3 separate regions of the Homo sapiens genome follow, and all the other regions are linked to region 2. Evidence: fine-mapped expression QTL. A gene starts in region 2. Each other region holds a variant in brackets. All regions are shown on one strand. Distances are between the middles of the regions. Region 1 overlaps IL34 (interleukin 34). Region 2 holds the start of MTSS2 (MTSS I-BAR domain containing 2). Region 3 overlaps VAC14 (VAC14 component of PIKFYVE complex).

The links. PIP is the estimated chance that this variant, and not a neighbour inherited with it, causes the effect.
Region 1: its variant is the best candidate, but not a certain one, in a credible set for the expression of MTSS2 in tibial nerve (GTEx, PIP 0.68).
Region 3: its variant is the best candidate, but not a certain one, in a credible set for the expression of MTSS2 in whole blood (TOPMed, PIP 0.54).

What each region holds. Positions count from the first base shown.
Region 1 is chr16:70,656,417-70,663,481 of GRCh38, reverse strand. It overlaps IL34 (interleukin 34), which reads right to left. Exons shown (of 6, transcript NM_001393494.1): 3 at 6,803-6,880; 4 at 6,361-6,522; 5 at 3,729-3,864; 6 at 2,800-3,485. The coding sequence ends at 3,295. MTSS2 (MTSS I-BAR domain containing 2) reads left to right here. Exons shown (of 15, transcript NM_138383.3): 15 at 1-2,278. Among named protein-coding and RNA genes, the nearest start is that of IL34, 13 kb to the right of the region's middle. The variant G/T (reference allele first, on the strand shown) is at 3,385.
Region 2 is chr16:70,681,017-70,687,930 of GRCh38, reverse strand. MTSS2 (MTSS I-BAR domain containing 2) reads left to right here and starts at 1,878. Exons shown (of 15, transcript NM_138383.3): 1 at 1,878-2,208; 2 at 6,906-6,914. The coding sequence starts at 2,140. VAC14 (VAC14 component of PIKFYVE complex) reads left to right here. Exons shown (of 19, transcript NM_018052.5): 19 at 1-492. The coding sequence ends at 3. RefSeq lists an enhancer at 1-350.
Region 3 is chr16:70,725,591-70,730,590 of GRCh38, reverse strand. All of the region lies in intron 14 of VAC14 (VAC14 component of PIKFYVE complex), which reads left to right. Among named protein-coding and RNA genes, the nearest start is that of VAC14-AS1, 27 kb to the left of the region's middle. RefSeq lists an enhancer at 3,931-4,225. The variant G/A (reference allele first, on the strand shown) is at 1,952.

The DNA of each region.
Region 1 (7,065 bases), 25 kb after region 2:
GACGGAGCCTGCAGGCCTGGGCCTGGTTCGGGGTCTGTTTTATGCTCTTCGGTCCCTCCTCTTCCTCCTCTGGGGCCCTGCCTCTTCCCTACCCATAAGCACCAGAGCCAGGGCCGCTGCCCATGACAGAGGGGCCAGGCTGGCCTCCCTTTCACCATCCCGGCCTCTCCCAGGGCTGGTCCTGCCTCAGCTCCTCCTGGAATGCTGGCCCCCCTCTCCCCTGCCTGAGCCCCCTCCTCCCCTCTTGCCTTCTCTCTGCCTCTCCCAGGCCCCTCTCCCTCCAGGAGGCGGGGCGGCTGTGGAGGGGCCAGGTGCACGCTGGGCTGGATGTCTGCTGGGGGCTGGGGGCCAGGGCGGCAGGTTGGAGTTGGGCGGCCAGGCCCCCCGTGTGGGAAGGGAGTTCCAGGGCCCACGCCAAGTCTCAGGGAGGAAACCAGGGGCTGCTTGGGGGGGGGGGTCTTGGGGGCCCTGTGGTGGCTCCCACCCCTCGCCTCCCCCACCCCGTGAGGCTGGCTGGAGGGGGCCAGAGCAGCTCTTTGGAAACTAGGGCAGCAGGGTTAGGAGGCCGGAGGCCCTGGGGTCACCGGCCAGCCACACAGGCACCGTTTTCAGATGTCCACTTCTCATTGGGTACATCAATCTTTTAACTTTGGGGGTCACAGTTTTAGCCACCTTTCGGGGGGTGACTGGAGCAGTAGGAGGTGTGGGGTCATTTTATGAATATAATAAAATGGAGCTGACTGTGGACGAGGACTAAGTGTGGGGGAGAGGGGACGATACAGGGTGTGTGTCTGGGAGTGCCTGGGGGACAGGGACCCCCCGGTGGTCCTATGGCAGGATGAGAAGGGAGGGACTTGGCTCCCCCAGAGCCCGGTGGAAGCTACTGTTCTCTCCAGTGTCTCGAGCGTAGCCAAAATAAGGTTGGGAGGCTCCCGGCCTGTCTGCTGTGGTCTGAGCTGGCTGCAAGCCCAGGTGGGGGAGCGAGTCTGGGAAGATTGGCTTTGACTCTCTGTTGCCGGAGGAGATGCCATCCCAGCACGGCCCCCACTGTAGTCCAGGCTCGTGGTGGCAGCGGGGGCAAGGGGAGGGGCAAGGCTGCCCCCACCCCACGCACCAAGTCACGCCAAGTCTCAGCAGGTAAAAGCACGTGAGCCTAGGGCGAGCGGAGGGAGTCCTGGTGGCCCCGCAGGTCAGGAGGGAAAGCAGGGCTCAGAGGGCATCGTGGCCCCAGGGCAGGGTCCTACCTGGGGGTCAGGAGCACCTTGGTCTTGATGATTGATTGATTGATTGATAGAATGGAGCTGGGTCTGAGCCTCCCAGGCTTGAGCTCCTGGGAGTTCTTGTGCGGTGAGCTGGGCAGCTCCTGGGTAGGTCCGGGCACCAAGCAGGCCCTGATGTGGACAGAGTCCCATCAGAGGGAGCTGATGAAGAATGGTCCCTGTAAGTAAGTCACTAGGTTCAACAACTGCCTGGCCGAGCACTCAGCCCGTGGAGCTCAGGCCAACACCAGAGCCCCGGTTTTAGGGGCCAGGAGAGCAGGTGACCAATTATTTGGGGAGTCTTGGGTAGAATTTCCGCCACACATTCTCCCCAGGGCTGCAGGGGTCTTCCGAGGCAGGGCGGTGGAGCAGGATTCAGGATGTGGTGGGAATAGAGTGAGGGGCAGTGGGTGGGCAGACCTGGGCGTCAGAGGTCCTGATGGGAAAGGAGGCAGGGGCTACCCAGAGAGGGGGGCTCGTGTGGCACAGCCCCCACCGACTCCGCCGTCCCCCTCCCCTGTGAGCCCCGGGGGCTGTACATACTCTACTCCATCCCCTTGTCCATCCCTGAGACCACCCCCGCCGCCCTTGCGTCGACTTAGCAACCACCTCATAGGCCCACCCACCTCGGGATCCGAGCCAACCATCCCACATCACAAACTTTGGTTTGGGGGACTTTACGTTCGTTTAATTTCTCATTTTGTACGGAGAAATATTCTTTTCAAAAGCGTCTTTTGACTGAAGTAACTTTCCTGGTGCTGTTGTTAACTCGTTCCTTTTTTTAATTTATTCCCCCACCCCAGGCAGCCCTCCTGGTTCCTACTCACCCTCCCCCCCTCCCCCACCCTCCGTCCCATCTGAACCATTTGTTTCTTTTCTTTCCGTCAGATTTTGGAAAAATTCTCCTCTCCTCCCCGCCCCCTCCACACCATCCTCCCCGATTTAAATATAGTCACTGCTACAAGTAACAGATGCACTGTGAAGATTCCAGTATTAATAAAGGTGTACTGTAATTAACACCCCTGCCTCTGCCTGGCTGCTTCCTACCCCATCCCCACACCTCACCTTTCCCACCCCAGATCCCAGCTGCAGGGGGACAGGCTGGGGGTTCCCAGAGGATCTCAGATCTCAATGTAGGTGCCAGGGCCAGACCTGGGTCTCTGAAATGTCCCATATGTGTCCCTGCTAGGGGCTGCCTGGGGGCAGCCAGATGGAGGGAGGGAGGGAGAGAGGGAGGGAGGGAGAGAGGGAGGGAGGGAGGGAGGATGGCAAGGGTCAAAGCCAAGGTATCAGCCCAACACCGCCTCCCCCAACCCAGGCTTGCAGAGGCCCCTGGGCTGGGCTGGGCTGGGCTGGGCTGGGCTGGGCTGGGCTGGGCTGGGCCGGAACTCCATCCCTGGCATCCCTCTCATTCCACATCCCTTGGGCAGGCTCCATCCACTCCAAATCCGCATCCTCAGCCCTGCCCCCCTCCACTTCCTGCACTTGGCCACCTCCCATCCCCGCCAGGTTCACCCCTGAAGATGCAAAGCAAAGCAAACCAAAGGAAGTGGGGTGTTTAATAGAAAAAAGAAACTGGAAGAGCATCCACTATGGCAAGATGTGGCACTTGGCACCGCCCTCTGCCCCCAGCTCCCCAGTCTGCCAGGCTGGGGGGTCATAGAATGGCCACGCCGTGCTGGCTGTCTCCCCTGCAACCCACAGCTGTGCCCTCACTGCTGCGGGCCACAGGAGGCTCAGTACCCCCTTTAGGCGGGGGGACAGTGAGGGCAGCACCAGGAGAAGCCAGGAGCTGTGTCCCCATCCACCTTCAGGTCCCCAGGTCCCCTCCGCTCCAGGTGAGGCCATGACAGCTATGGAAGGCAGGAAGCTGAGCCCTGCTGTGGCACAGAATCCCCCTCAAAGGAAAAACACCCTTCCCAGGGGTCCTCTCCCAAGGGGGGCTCCCACCACCACCCCTTGAAGTCTCAGACCCAGTTGAACTCCTGTGGGAGCTGGTCTGGCTGCCCCTATCCGCAGTCACCATCCAGGGTGCTCAGGGCAAGAGGCCCTCGCCCTGTGCCCTGACCGGCCTCACCGAGCCCGTGGAGTGAGGCGGGGAGCTGGGGGACCACGGGGGCGGAGG[G/T]TACAGCTGGGTGGCCGCATACTGCAATGAGGGCTCTGGGCTGCAAGACTGAGGACTTGGCACCTCACAGTCCTGCCAGTTTAGGACGGAGCTTTGTTTACCTGCAAGAGATAGGGGAAAAAAAAAAAGACTGCAGCAGTGTTCAAGACCACCCTCCCCACTAAGCCAAGCCGCATGTGCTTGTCCCCCACTCTACCCAGGGCCCATCCTGGCTTCCAGAAATGGCTTGTAGCCCCGGGGAGCAGAGGATATGCCCGGGAGGACGCCAGCTCTGCCAGCTGGCCTGGGTGGGCCCAGATGCCTGGCCTCCCACCCCCAGGCGCCATCCCCTGAGAGCTCCTTACAGCAGGAGCAGTACAGCAGCTCCATGACCCGGAAGCAGTTGTCCAGCAGGGCTTTGGGCCGCACCAGCTTCAGGTTTGGCCCTGGGGCATTCAAGAGGGACAACACGGATTCCACCTTGGGGCTGACCTCCACATCCTGGAAAGGAGGAAACAGTCAGGAGCGGTGGCGAGATGGGGCCGCACCCCAGGAGAGCCGTGAGGGCTGTCCAGTCACCTGGAGCTGCCCAAACCCCGGAAGAAGGACCAGACTTCCTGTGACCATGAGCCTGGATAGCTATTTCTCACCATCTTCTTCCTGTGGGCATGGGGAGGGTCCCAGATGCCACCACTCACCCATGTACAACTCAGAGGCTTCGCTTTTCCATCCTTGAAAAATGAGTAAAGGGCGTAGACCAGGACAGTGAGGAAAGTGGGGCAAACTGCACCCAGGCACGGCCACCCACCACTGCGTGAGGACCCCCTGACCTGGGGAAAACTGTCCCTCAAGAAGCAGACATCTCCATCAACTCCAAGGAACAAGAGAAGGTCCTCACAGAGACACTGAGGCTTAAGTCACATACACAGGGCAGGGTGTCCAGCTTCAAGCTGGGGTGCTTTCTCTCCACGATATGCAACAACAGGGTCATGTGGGGTGCACCGTGGCACCAAGGGAATCAAGTCCCTGAACAGGAGGTCAGGGCCACTGTAGAAAGCATCATGGGAAACGTGGGGGGTGATCTTCTGGAAGGGGGTGACAACAAGGCAACATGTCCTGGGCCAAATTGTCCCTCTCCTCCCCCAAAAAGCTGTCTTGGTCCTACCCCTTGGTACCCGTGAATGTGACCCTATTTGGAAATAGGTTCTTTGCAGAGGTAATTAAGTTCAGGATCTTAGAAGGACATCATCCTGGATTTCAGGTAGGCCCTAAATCCAATGCCTGATGTCCTTGTAAGAGAAAGGTGACAGACATGGAAACAGGGCAGAAGGCCATGAAAAGACTGAGACGGCCAGGAATGGTGGTTCAACCTGTAATCCCAGCACTTTGGGAGGCTGAGGGAGGCATATCACTTGAGGCCAGGAGTTCAAGACCAGCCTAACCAACATGGCAGAACCCCGTCTCTACTAAAAATACAGGTGTGGTGGCAGGCATCTATAATCCCAGCTACTTGGGAGGCTGAGGCAGGAGAATTGCTTGAACCTGGGAGACGGAGGTTGCAGTGAGCCAAGATTGCCCCACTGCAATGCACCTGGGCGACACAGTGAGACTCCGCCTCAAAAAAACAAAAAAAGCCACCACAGAGGCCAGGCAGGATGTAATCCCAGTCCTGTAATCCCAGGACTTTGGGAGGCTGAGGCAGAAAGATCACTTGAGGCCAGGGGTTCAAGACCAGCCTGGGCAACATAGCGAGACCCCCATCTCTAAAACAATAAAAAAGAAATAAAATGAAATAAACAGGAAAAAGAGCCACCAAGCAGATCAAGGAGTCTCCTGACTTTGTAGGAATTGACAGCCTCCCCACCAGTCTGGTTCCAGGAAAGCTCCAGGCAGCTGCAAAACAGGTGCTAGTCCCTAAGCCCTTTCACCGTCGGAAGCTCACAGTTGGCCTGGGATGTTCTCCCGACAAGCTGGGCCTTGTCAGCAGCTGGCTGGGCAGGGCAGCAGGTGGATCCCAGGGACAGGTGTGCACCAGAGTCCTGAGGAGGTCTGGTGGAGACGGGGAGAGGTCCCACCGCACACACGGCCTGCATGGGTCATCTCGCCACCTTCCTTTTTTACTACAACTCAGGCATTTTAGAGGATAATATCCCTGAGGCCTCAGATCAATTTCTCTGAGCGGGTCAGGGATGGGGGACCTCTTTTTTTAATTAACTAAAGTCCATAATTTACATTAGGGCTCACACTCTCTGTTGTACAGTTCTGTGGGTTGTGACAAATGCATGATGTCATGTATACAACATGAATGCATTATACAGCATAGTTTTTTGTTTTTTGTTTTGAGATGGAGTTTTTCGTTCTTGTTGCCCAAGCTGGAGTGCAATGGTGCAATCTCAGCTCACTGCAACCTCTGCCTCCCAGGTTCAAGCGATTCTCCTGCCTCAGCCTCCTGAGTAGCTGGGATAACAGGTGCCCACCACCAGGACTGGCTTATTTTTGTATTTTTAGTAGAGACGGGGTTTCACCATTTGGCCAGGCTGGTCTCAAACTCCTGACCTCGGCCTCCCAAAGTGCTGGGATTACAGGCATGAGCCGCCGCGCCCGGCCTGCAGCATGTTTTACTGCCCTAAACATTCCCTGTGCTCCATCCATTCTTCCCCTCTCCCCCTACCCCACCTCCAGGACCCTCGTGTTGCAGAAACAAAGAGGGTACGATGACTTGCCCAGGATCCAGAGGGAGAGAGGCAGAGCCTAGAACAGAGTCTCAGAGGCATCGCCTGCACCCCGAGCCCGGCTCTCATGACCACCACGGCTGCCTCTTCCTTCCACAGGCCTCTTTTCCTGCACCCCTCCCCCACTTCTCCCACGTCCCTCTGCTTGTGCCCATCTTTCCGTGTATTCACCCTTTCCCTCACTAGCCTTTGGCCACACCTCACACACATGTACACACGTGTGCACACACACACACCCCACCTGCCACTCCTCCACACAACTCACCGTGAGGCCCTGCTGGACATTCAGCAGCAGCGTCTCCACCTCCTGCAGGTACTTCCAGGATGGGTGGCCCTCGAGCAGCACGTCCTGCACCGACTCAGTGGCACTGAGGCTCACCAAGACCCACAGATACCGCAGCTCCCGCTCGCTCACCTGGGCCCTCTGCTGCGGAAACAGGGAAGTCACTGCAACTCGGGAGACATGGGCCTCTGGGCTCTGACCACTCCCTCACCAGGGACTTGCCCCTGCATAGGGAGCAGACGCGGGCCGTCCGCTGTGGACAGTGGACAAACATGTGCCTGGGCCAAGGGCCAGCCTGCTCTCGGGGCTGAGGAGAGGCCCCAGGCCAGCAGCACCACCTGCCAGTCCCAGCGCGCCTCTGAGGCTGGGGCCCACCGGATGTCGCAGGAGGCAGGGTCCCCCCAGCCCAGGAAGGGATTCTCACCAGCCTGGTGACGTTGGCGATTCTGAACACCCCCTCGTAAGGCACACTGATCTTGTAGTTGATGGGGAAGTAGTGTTTCTGGAGAGGCACAAGAACAAACTATGAGGCCAGAAGTAGAAATGACCAGCAGGCTCCCCAACCTCCCAAATGATGTTTTTTTTAACAGTTAGTCTCACTCTGTCACCCAGTATGGAGTGCAGGGGCAGCATCATGGCTCACGGAAGCCTTGACCTCCCAGGCTCAAGCAATCCTTCCACCTCAGC
Region 2 (6,914 bases):
TGACAGGCCTGGCACGGAGGAGGGCCCACCGAGTGGTCCCATGAAACACTAAGGGTCGTCACGCCCTCCCGAGGAGCTCAAGGACCTGCCTGTCAGGACCAGGGCTGGGCCTGCCAACCCAGGGCAGTGTTGGGGCCGGAGGCTGCTGTGTCTGCCCAAGCTCCTCTCAGAGTCCAGTCCCCAGGCCTCCAGCGCTGTCAGCTGCACCCTGGCATTCTCACAGAGCTGGCTGCCCACCCAGTGGGGGGCTATAGCCTCAGAGACCACTCATCCTCTGGAATCAACCTCTTTCTAATACCCTCTTGGAAAAAGAGCTTGCCCCTCCTCCAGCACACTAGAGCTCTGGCCTTGTGTGTATATGTATACATACGTGAACACATGCCTGTGTGTGTGTGTGTGTGTGTGTACTTGTATGCACGTAGGCACCAGCACAAAGATCTGAATGATGCACCCCACCCCCACCCCAATAAAGAAATAACAGAAAACCCTCAACCCGAGCCGGCCTGCTCCTTCCCAGCTGACACGTGCAGCTGTCCGGGGGCCTCACCCTCTGTCCTGGAGATCGGGTTTCATGATGGCCCCAAGGAGTACTGGCTGCCCCAGGGCCTGGTCCCTGCACTCACCTGAGTGGAGCCATGGGCCTAGAGCCTAGGTCCCCACCTCTGGAACCTGCACCCTCCTGGAGAGCACCATGCACTGCCTGCCCTGGAATCCTGAACCCTGCCTTCCCCAATCTGCCTTTCTCATCCTGACTCCCTGGGGCAATGGGAGTTCCCCACTGGGGACATGGGAGCTGAGCCCCAGGAGTTCCTGGATGAAAGGGCAATGCACACTGCAGAACACTTTGCAGATCTCGGGGCAAGGGGAGGAAAAGCCCAGAGCAGTCCAGGGAGGGGCAGGTGCCCCAACCACTGCTGCAGCTGAAAGCCCTTCCTCACCGGGAGTGGTACCACCTGTCCCCAGGCTTTGGGAACCCTGGGCTTGGTCTCCTAATGAGCTTGTAATTGGCTCCCTCCGGCCCATGGAGTAGGCGAGAAGGAGCTTGTGCCTGCTCTTCCCCAGAGTGCGCTCCCCCATCGTGCTGCCCCCCAGGGTGGGTTTCCCTGCCTGGAGTCTCCAGGACAGGCTGCGATTGACATTGCTACCCCATGCACGTGTGTGCATCGCACCCACCGTGGACTCAGGCAGCAGAGACCAAGGACACTCCAGCTCTGCTCTGCAGGTCCGACATTAGCCCCCACCCGCGAAGAAGGAGGTTGTTCAAGGCCCAGGAGACTACCACTGCCCCCCAAATGCCCAGCCTTGGGCACCCCATCCGGGTGGCATCGGCACCACTTGGAGAAGGAGCCAAGGAACTTGGAAGGGTCCGAACTTGAGGAAGGTCTGTGCCTGCGATGAAACGTCCCAAGGCGGGCGGCTCCACGATACCCCGCGCCCTGCTGTGTGCGGTGTATGCCACCCATCCAGCCCATGCACCGACCCCATCCCGCCACTGTACCCACTGCCTGTCTTTAGAAGCGCGAGAAGCCCCCCGCCCCAGACCAAAGGCCAGAAGATATCGTGGAGCCCCTGCCCGGGGGCCGAGGCCCAACCGCCAGTCCCGCTCCTGCGTGGGCAGGGCGGGCCCCGCCCAGCGCCGCCCCCCGACCCTCGGTGGCGCCCGCGCCCGTCGGCCCCGCTCGCCGGACCAGTCTGGCAGCGCCCGGGCTCGGATTTCAAAGCCCTGGTTTCTGGCCGTGAATGGGCCTGCGCCCGCGCGGCCGTTCCCACAGCCCCCTCCCGCGCGGCCCGCCCTCCTTCCCTCCCTCCTCGCGGTCCCCCCTCCGCCGCGCCCACGTGACGCCCGATCCTCGGCGGCTCGGATTACCGCCGCCGTCAGTCCCCGCGCCGAGGCTGCGCCGCGAGCTGCCCGCGCCGCGCCCCCCGCGCCGCCCGCCAGCCCCGCTGCGACATGGCCCGCGCCGCCCGCCGGAGGCCCGCGACCCCGGAGCGCGGCGCGGCCGGCCGCTGAGCGCAGCCTGGAGGCGGGAGGCCCGGCCCGGCCTCGGAGCGAGCGCCCGCGCGGCCTGGCCCCCTCCCTTGCGCTGCTCCCCGCGCTCCGTGCGCCTAGCCGCCGCCGCGGCCCGGCCCAGCCAGAGCATGGAGACGGCGGAGAAGGAGTGCGGCGCCCTGGGCGGGCTCTTCCAGGCCATAGTCAACGACATGAAGGTAACCGGGGCGCGGCGGGGCCGGGCGCGCGGCGACGGGTGCGGGACCCCCCGGGGACGCGTGGCGGCGGGTGGCCGAGCCTCGTGTGGCCGCGCGCCGCGGTGTCTGTGTGTCCTTGTCTGAGCGCGTCCTGCCTGCGTCTGCTGGGCGCCCGTGTCTCCGGGTGCCCGTCTGGGGGTGTGGGTGCTCGTGTGTCGGGGTGTCCGTGCGGTGCCCGCGGTGGCCCCGTGGGGTCCTGACCCGAGCCTGTGCACACGCAGGCTCCCTGCGCCCCAGACCGCCAAACCATGAATGGGGTTTGGATCCAGGACCGACTCTAGGGCCCTTTAACGAGTCCGGGGTCTTACCGGCCTCCGCCCCCTTCCACCACCATGTTCCCCCACGGCCCCGGAGCCCAGACAATGCTGTCACCGCCAAAGCAGGAAAAAATAATAAAGCGGAGAACCGTTAACTCCTTCCCCGCCGACCTAGGCCTCTGCACCCGACCGTGAGACTGCGTCCCCCAGCCCCGCCCCACCCCCACAGCCCCAGGAAGCTCCAGGACTCCAAGGTCTCCAGGCTGAATGTCCCTGCATCCCAAGGATAGGCCTTGATCATCACCTTGGGAGGAGGCGGGATGAAGGTTGGGGTCGGTGGAGCAACCCCAAGGAAGCGCTTTTCCTACCCCATTACCACCCTGGGCTCTCAGCTCCGAGCCCTCCTTGTCTCCCAGGATTGCTTAAGGTCAGGCTGGATCCAACCACCCATTCATTCCTCACCCCACCAGGTGGGGAAACTGAGGCCTGGAAATGGCTCAAGGTCACTAAGGAGACTATTGGACCCTTCCCCTGACCTCAGCCCCCATTTTTCCTCCTGGGAAAATTAGTGGGTTCCTCTCCCCAAATGAGGCCAGGGTTTGGCAGGGCTGCCCTACGCTGACTAGGCAGAGAGGGCCCAGCTCCAGTGATAGGGTGGGGGCCAGGAACCAGTATTCCTGCCCTCCTGCCGTGCCCCCTTTCCTTAGCCTAGGATGAAGGGGCAGGATTTGGGGGCTGGGAGAAGGGGAAAGAACGAGGCACCCCACAGGATCTCCCAAGGGCCCCCACCCCCACAGCCCAGCGCAGATTCTCCAAGTGCACAACACAGAATCCCACCAGGCCAGGGATGGGGGTGACACCACCCAGTACAGTGCTGCTAGGACAGGCCCCGTGAGGGGTGGGGGTTGCTGGCAGGTTGGAGTTCGAGGCTCCCGGTGCTGCCAGGACAACAGCCCCAGGGACAGCTGCCAGATCTCTGCCCCCGGAAGAGGCCTGAAGCCAGCCTGGCCTGGGACTACCCAGTTAGCGGCTTGTAGATGCCCCCCACCCCCTGCCCCTCATGGTGCACTCCCCCTGGGACCCCCATCTCTTGCAACTGTACATCTGGGCCCCTCCGCTGGCCCCCAGCAGTCCCCACCTGTCCTGTGGACATCACAGCCCTGGCCCCAGGATCCTGTTAAGGGACTGGGCAACACAGACCACCCTCCCCTGGCCGATCCCAGAGCTGGCTCCGGATGGGCCTTCCCGCACCCCACCACCCACCACCACTGGCAGCCTCATAGCAACCACTGCAGAGAGCAGCAGATTTTGCTCGTGGAAGTGGACTAGGACAGTCTCTCTCCCTCTCCAGCCAATTTGCAAGGAACTTTGGGATGAGACAGAAGGAAGTGGGCCCAGATCATAGCAAGAGGTTCAAGCCAGACATCGGGCATGATTTGCTGACATGTGGAGGCAAAACAGGAGAGGCTTCACCTGGGATGATGCCAAGGACAGATTCGCCCCTACCTATGACACAGGCATGTGTTCAGGGGCCATGACCAGGGGCAGAGAAGGGGATGAGGCCACCTGGAAGCTGACCACCTGGATTTGCGGGGGCAGCTTCTGGATTTTCCCCTCGGTGGCCTGAGCAGCAGGGCCTCCGTAGAGGAAGGGCGGCCATCAGCAGCCAGGTTGAGGAGACTGAGCTTGCCCCGTGAGGCCACCCCACAGTGAGTCCACAGGCCCCACAGAAGCCCTCCCCTGGGCCTCTGGGAGGCCCTGACCTTGGGCTGAGCGGGGGCCAAGGTCAGATGCCCACTGGTGTCAGGCTGCCCATTGAAACCCAGAGAGGGGCAGAGACTTGCCAAAGGTCATAGTTCTGGGCACGGCACCTTCAGCAAGGTGAATGGGGCCTCCACCCAGTGCTGGCCCAGCCAGAAAATGGGGTCATACTCTTCACCCACCCCTCAAGAGTGGGGAATGTCACCTGGACACATAGGCCTGGCCAGGCCTCTGCTAGGGGCCCCTGCAGAGGGCAGGGCTTGCGTACTGTTAGCTGGTGTTAACTGAGCACTTACTGCGTGCTGGGCGCTGCGAGGAGTGCTGGCTGAGCAGCACCTGCTTCAATTTCCACACTGACCCAGTGGGGCAGGTGCTCCTCCTCTCCTGATTTTACAGGTGAAGAAACTGAGGCTCAGACAGGGGGCCCTTGCCCAGGGGCACCTGGAAAGCCCACTCCCTGGGATTGGAGGCTGGATTGCTCACCCACACTCCACATCTGAACCACAGCCACTGCCGGGACAGAGACAGAGTCCCCTCATCCCTGTCCACTTGGGCGCCTCTAATGAGAAGCCCCTCACCTCCCCACTCCAGAGCAGCCACTGTGCTTGGGGCAGAACTGGGTGTCTCTCACATCCCAGCAGTCCCTGCCGCCTCCCCAGCCTTGACGTTCAGTGCTTGTCTCCCTGCTTTGTAAGGGAGTCCCTCTACCTGGCGTGCAGTGACCAGGCAGACATGGGATCAGGTCCTGACCCCGCCACCCTGTGGCCGTGGGCAAATGAGCTAACCTCTACGGGCTTCTGTTTCCTTGTTGGTGAAATGGGGCTGTGGGGAAGGTTTACCTGGGCCTGTCCCAGGTGAAGGCTGAGGATGCTGTTCCTGGGGCACTGGCTGCTGGAGCCCTATCTCTTATTTTTAATCAGTGAAATTGACCTATCCATGAAGAGGCGGATATAAACAAATAAGACATAAGCTCTTTGTCTCTGGGGTCCTTTATGTGGTTACCGTGGGGAGGGGGGCGGGTCCAGGTCCTTAGAGACTGAGGCATCTAGGTCCATCTGCTGAGGGGAAATGGCCTGGCCTCCCCTGCGCCCCATCTTGTCCCCTCCCCATGGGGAGAGCCTTTAATCTCTGAGACTGCCCCAGGGCTGCTCAGGGGCTAAGAAGGTTCCTGGGTGCCAGGGCAGCTGGCTCTGGACCCCCCTCCACCCCTAGCAACTTCTCTGCTCCCTAAAGGGAGATCTTAGCAAGGTTTCAAGGCTGAGTGGGGGTGGGGGTCCAGGCGGTGGGAGAGCGCCCCCTTTTAGAAGACCCCCAAGGGGTACTCCAGGCATAGGTGGCATGAGTCCACTCCTTGGGACGGCTAGGAACAGCTTCCCAGGCCCCTTCACCCTGAGCTGTGCCCATTTGGGAACAGCCCACCCACAGCTTACCCACTCTTGCTTCAGCCTCTGTGGACTTTGCAAATATTTGCTTTCTCTGGACACTGGTTTGGTTGGGCTGGGAGGGGAGGGAGATTCTGAGGCCCCCTAAGCCGCCCTGTCTCCTTCCCACCCCTGCAAGCTCTCCTAGTCTGGCAGGGCAAGCCCTAGCCTGCTCCTGGGTTGCAGCCAGGCAGAGCCTCCCTCTGAGGCCCTGAGGGCCAGGGTCTCCGCATTCCCCTTTCCTCAGGAAGAGCCCCAGCCTCCATCGCCCCATCCTACATGGAAGGGAGGGTCAGAAGCCCCTGTGGGCTGGGGCTTGGCTGGCCCAGGGCTGCCCGTCAAGGGGCAAAACCTCCACAGGGCCCTTGGGCCAGGGCTGAGGTTTCTCCAGGACCCCGGGGCATGCGTTAACCAGAAAAGCCCCAAAATCAGATTGGACAACTCGGTGGCCAGGAGCCCGACCTCCCTATTGGGAAACCCCCTCCCAACTTGGAGCCTTGGGCCAGGCTGGGATAAAGGCCACACTGTTTCCCCAGGAGGGGAGGGGAGCAGGGGGTGGAGAAAGGTGGCTCTGTTGGCCGCACAAGGCCCCATTCAGCCCAGGGCCTGGTTGTCCCAGGCAGGCTAGCTGGGCCCTGCAGCAGCCACAGCCTCCTCGGCCCTGGGAGCCACTGCTGCTGGCCTGGGATGGCAGCTTCCAGGACACAGGGCAGGGGCCCCGGAGGCCCCAGTCTACACCTGGTGTGCCTTCAGCCCTGCCACCCCCTACCCTCCACACTGTGCCTCTGCCCCTGGTGGGCAGGTCAGTGCCAGTGTCCTAGGCACATGTCCGGGAGACACGATGCCTCTCATTGGGCTCAGCCCAGATCCCCTGCCAGGCCCCTGGGAAACCCCGAGGGGACAGGACCTGCCACTTCCTGCTCCATTTCCCCTGAGGGAGGATGTGAGCCCCCTGTAGCCTGTAGGGTGGATGTCCTGATGTCAGGGAGGGAGGGCTTGGCAAAGGCGCCCGTTCCCAGGGACAGGCTTTCCTCATGCTGATGGCTCTGTCCTTGGTCCTCTGCCCTCCGAGAGGACCCAGAGCCTCCCTCTCCATGGGGCAGGGCTGCTGTCTTAGAAACTGCCCCAAGTCTGGATGGAGCATGCAGGGAGCCCGGCCCAGGTCAAGCCCTGCAACCACCCCACAAGAAGCTCACTTTCTCTCCCATTTGCCCGGCAGAGCTCCTAC
Region 3 (5,000 bases), 44 kb before region 2:
GGGCCTCCCTCTGATGAGTGAAATCGGAACCCCTGGGGTGATGGGGTTATTAAAGTGGTCTGGGGTGCTTGGGGACTGAGTAGACTACCGACTACCATGGTCTGGGGGTCAGGAGTTGAAGGAGTCCCGGCAGGGGCCTAGGCTGTATGGGGCTTCAAGGCAAGAAGGAGCCTGGGGAGCTCATCTTGCTGTAAACTAATAAGCAGCTTCAGCCTGTGGGCCACAGTGAGGATCAGAGACCTTACTCAGGGGTCAGCACGGAGGCACTGACAGGGCTTGAGCAGGGGATCAACGTGACTGGATTTCTGGCTTGAAAGACAACTGTTGCTGGGGCGAATGGGTTGGAGGGGCTGAGGTGGAGCCAGCTGGGAGGCTGTTGTCCAAGCAGAGACTGTGGCAGCTTGTGAGGGGGATGGGAAGCTGCAGCCGGATTCGAGAATGAGGATTCGAGACTGAGTAGGAAGTAGATTTGTCTGGTGACTGATGTGGAGAGAGTGAGGGGAGAGGGAGCTGGGAGTGTCAGGGTGTCCAGGCCTCTGGTTTGGGCAGCGGGTGGATGGTGATGCCAGTCCCCGAGGTGGGAGCCCCGGAAGAGTGGCAGGGAGTGAGGAGGGGGTGCATGTTTGAGTTTGAATTACTTTGGGGGCATCAAAAAGAAGGTATTGAAGAAGTAGTTTGCTGTACCAGGCTCTCCAAGGGGGTACCGAGGCCCAAGATACAATCTCGAAATTGATGGCATAGTCATTCATTCATTCATTCATTCAACAGATGTTTACTGAACACTAACTCTGTGCAAGGGACCATTCTAGATGGTTCTGCACTTGTGGAGCTTTCATTCTTAGGGAGTTCTTAAGAAGAGGTCGAGTGAGAGGGAAGGGGTCTGAGGCTGAACCCTACGTGTTCCAGACTGTAATGGTTGGGGAAAGAAGGAGAAGCCAGAAAAGGAGGCTATGACGAAGGGCCAGAGAGGTAAAGGAAGCGGCCAAGCAGGGAGATGGCAGGAGGCAGTGAGGGAGGTGAGACCCGGGGATGGTCTGCTGCGAGCCGCTGCAGGAGCCTGAATGCTGCTGGGGGAGTTGAGGGAGTGGAGCGTACAGGAGGTGACCGGCCAGCTCAGGAGCTGAGGTGGAGTTGAGGGCACCCTGGGGATGGGGCCGCAGAATTGAGTTGTGGGAGAGGACAGGCCTGCCTGACCAGAAAGACAAAGAGCAGGACCACAGTGGGGGACAGGGCTTCTGATGGTCTGGCCACCAAAAGGATGCCCCTGTGATAGTGGGGAGGCTGTCACCACCCTCTTGCTTCTCTGGGCTCTTCTAGAGCAGGGCTTCTCGAACTCAGCGCCGTTGGCATTGGAGCCGGATAGCTCTTCGGGATGGCAGCTGTCCTGCGCCCTGTAGGATGTCAGCAGCATCCCAGGCCTCTGCCCCCTGAATGCCAGTAGCACTTGCATTCACCCAGTTGGGACCGTCTGAAATGTCTCTAAACATTGCCAGAGGTCCCCTAGGGAGGAGAATCACCCCAGTTGAGAACCACCGTGTCAGAGAGACAGAAATGGATTCTTAACCTTCATTGGCCAAAAGAGGAAGATTTCCATGGTGTTTCTTCCCATCACGTTGGCCAGTTTCAGGTAGGGAATTGAGGTAGAGGTTAGCTATGGTGCAAGAGGCCCCCCCACCAGGAAAGCAGCGGAATGTTCCCACAAGAGTGACAGTTAACATCATGTGGTTTTCCAAATTGCAGAGGCATCAGTACTCATGATGAGCTCTCCTTGCCTGGACGACTTTCAGGGAGTCAGTGGAAGGAGAGGCCTTTGGAGGAGGAATCTATAGCTAGAGTCCCCTCTGGAGAACTGGGCTGAGGTGGGTTTTCCACCCTGTCTCAGCCCCACATGACCAAGACGCATGGCGAGAAGGAGTTTGGGGTAGTAACCAGCATCTCCAGGCTGCATGGA[G/A]CAGAAGTGCAGGCCCCATGGGCATGCTTGCATGCCCTCCCCACCCGCTCAGGGCCTGAGGCTCTGTGAAGCTGGAGGCCAGCCCACTGCCATGTTCCCAGGTGCAGACTCCAGGCCAGGGAGGCTTTGCTTGCTTTGCAGTGCATCTCCTGGGCTTCCTGGGCTCACGGGAATCGTCATTTTGCAGAAGGGAAAATAAGAGGAAGTAACGTGCCCACTGGGCTGGGCAGGAGCTGGGCTGCAAACTCCTGCACTCTGCTAATTCAGCAGCCGCCACTTTGTCCCTTCTGTGTGGGAGTGCAGAGCCTGGTGCCGTGAGAGGCCCTGAACATCCTGCGTGCCAGGACCACCTGAGGCCCAGCTCCTCAGCGTGCTCAGGAGCTGGGCCAGTGGGTCCTCCCTTCCCACCCTCCAGGGGCTCAGTATGGCGATCGCTTGCTCTTCTGGGGCTCAAACCTGCCATGGGCCACACTGGGTTCTCAGTGGAAATTGAGGCTGGCCTCCAGGCCTCACTCCCACCCGCACAGCCACAGAAGGTCTCTTAGCCATTGGCATCCCCACTAGAAGCCCAGTGGGCTGGGACAGAAGGAACCTTGTGGCTGGGCCTTTCACAGAGGACTGGGTCTCTCCTAGTCCTTCACCCGGTTTCTCCAGACTGCTGTCCCCCAAAAGCAGCACCCACACCTGTCAATGTGCATCCTGGCGGACAGCCACCTGGCCCAGCTGGTTCGGGAACCTGCTGCCCACTCTGCCAGCACACCAAGCCATTGTCAACCAGCTCCAGGGTTGCAGGCCCAGCCACCCAGTCTGGGGGCACACACAGCATCTGACATGGAAAAGGCCCTGCAAACATGTGGCTTCCTCCATCCTCCCCATGCTCCTGTGGGGGGCTGAGGCCGTTCCAAAGAGCTTTGTTGAGGTGGAGGGGGGTATCCACCTGCCCTCCTGCTTCTCCATTGCACTTCCTTTTCTCCTGCGATGACTTTAAAGAGGGGCATCGTTGGCTGGGTGCAGTGGCTCATGCCTGTAATCCCAGCACTTTGGGAGGCCGAGGTGTGCGGATCACGAGGTCAGGAGTTCAAGACCAGCCTGGCCAACATAGCGAAACCCCGTTTCTACTAAAAATATAAAAATTAGCCAGGCATGGTGGCACATGCCTATAATCCCAGCTACTCGGTAGACTGAGGCAGGAGGATCGCTTGAACCCAGGAGGCGGAGGTTGCAGTGAGCCAAGATCACACCACTGCACTCCAGCCTGCGCGACAGAGCAAGACTTCGTCTCAAAAAAATAAATAAAAATAAATAAATAAATAAAGAGAGGCATCGCGATGGTTCCGCAGATGCTGGCATGAAGCCACAGGCCTGATGAGGAGCACAATGATTTCTTAACCCCCTCTTTAGCTGTTAGGCAAACTCTAAATTGTTCTTCTCAGCCTCCAAGATTGCACACTGAGAAAGAAAGGAAAGAGATTCTTCTGGCCAGCAAGTGAAAAGCTGTTCTTTTGGCAGGAGTGTGTTTAGCTCTGGGACCTGGAGCGGCTGCTATAGAAAGACAGAGGCATCGGGAGTTCTTGAAGACACACATCTGGTGGGGGTTCTTGGCATTGAGGAAGATGCATGATTTCCCTAAAGACCCTGGGAGCGTTTCCTCTTCCCCAGGCAGCTTTCCCAGGCCGCACCTCCATGTCGGAGTCAGTGGGGGTGAGAACGGGGTACCCAAGCTCCAGCCAGGCTTGAGTGGGTTGGACTTCCTGTCGGTGTCCACACAGCCTCCTTTTCTGGTGGACATAACGGTTGAGATGCATGTCAAGGTGAAGCCAGTGGCTTTAAAACCTTCATTTTTTAGCCAGCTACTCTGGCTCCAGGCCCTTTCCTTAGCAGCAGGGAGTTGAGGCCAAGCTCACAGATAGAGCGAAGATGGCGACATGTGCGGTGGGGTGCTGTACCCCCACTCCCTCCACGGGACTTTGCAGGACTAAGGCAGATGAGCCTCCCGAGGCACTCATTTGGGGCTCAAACCCCAATTCCTCCCATTTTTAACTGTGTGACCTGTTTCCAAGGCCTTTCTGCTTTGTCTGTGACGCAGCGATGATAGTGCCTGCCGTGTCATAGTGTGGTGGGGTTATATAAATGGCGCATGTCTCAGCCCCAGTGCTGGCTGTGTCTGATAAAGCGGGGCTGTTGTTCAGCCTCCCCACAGGGCTTGTGCTTCCCAGGGTGGTCTGTGGAGGGGGAACCACACCCCTGAGGGGATGAAATCATGGCACCTTCCGTGCCGAGAGCTGGCTCCAGTGCACCGGCCCTGTTGCCCCAGTGCCCAGGGCACCCACCAGCGGCCCGGCCCGGCTCCGCTAAAACAACTCTGCCCGGAGTAGGTGTTGGTGTGCGTTGCCTTCCCCCGGCCTCTTCCCACCCTCCATGCTAATGCAGGCAGAACAAGCCCAGGCCTTGTCTCCCCGTGAACCATCCACTTATCCTCAGTAGAAAGGAGAGGAGGGAGAAAACCCAGCCTCTTTGATAAACTGTGATATGAACTCCAGCGTGACCCGACAGCTGTGATCTTTACAAGGCCTGCTTCTGTGCTGGGAAGCGAGCAAGTCTGAAGACAGTCGCTCTGCCTGCCAACACGGCCCTCCGGCCAGCCGCGCTTTGGCTTCAGCGACTGTGCATTTTTCCCCTCCTCTTCCTCCCTGCCGCCTTGCAGAGAGGACTGGTGGAGAATGCTTGCATCTGTAATGAGCCACTGTATGCGGTGAATGCCAGGGCCTGATCCGAACCGGCCCAGTTAATGGTAGATGAGGTCCGAGCCACCTCCCAGGAGAACAGGGCACTCCTAAGATGAGGCGGGCATTTGGAGAGGATGGGGCCCACAAGGGAAAGGAGGAAGCAGTCATGGGACTTCTTTCACGAGATCCTGACCCAGAGAAGCCCAGCAGCAAGGCTTCCGGTTCATTCTGGGCCTCCTCTCACCTCTGCTACAGACAGGCGTGGCAGCCTGTCCAGCTGAGCAAATGCTCAGTCCCTAATATGTGCCTCTGCTACTGCCCCT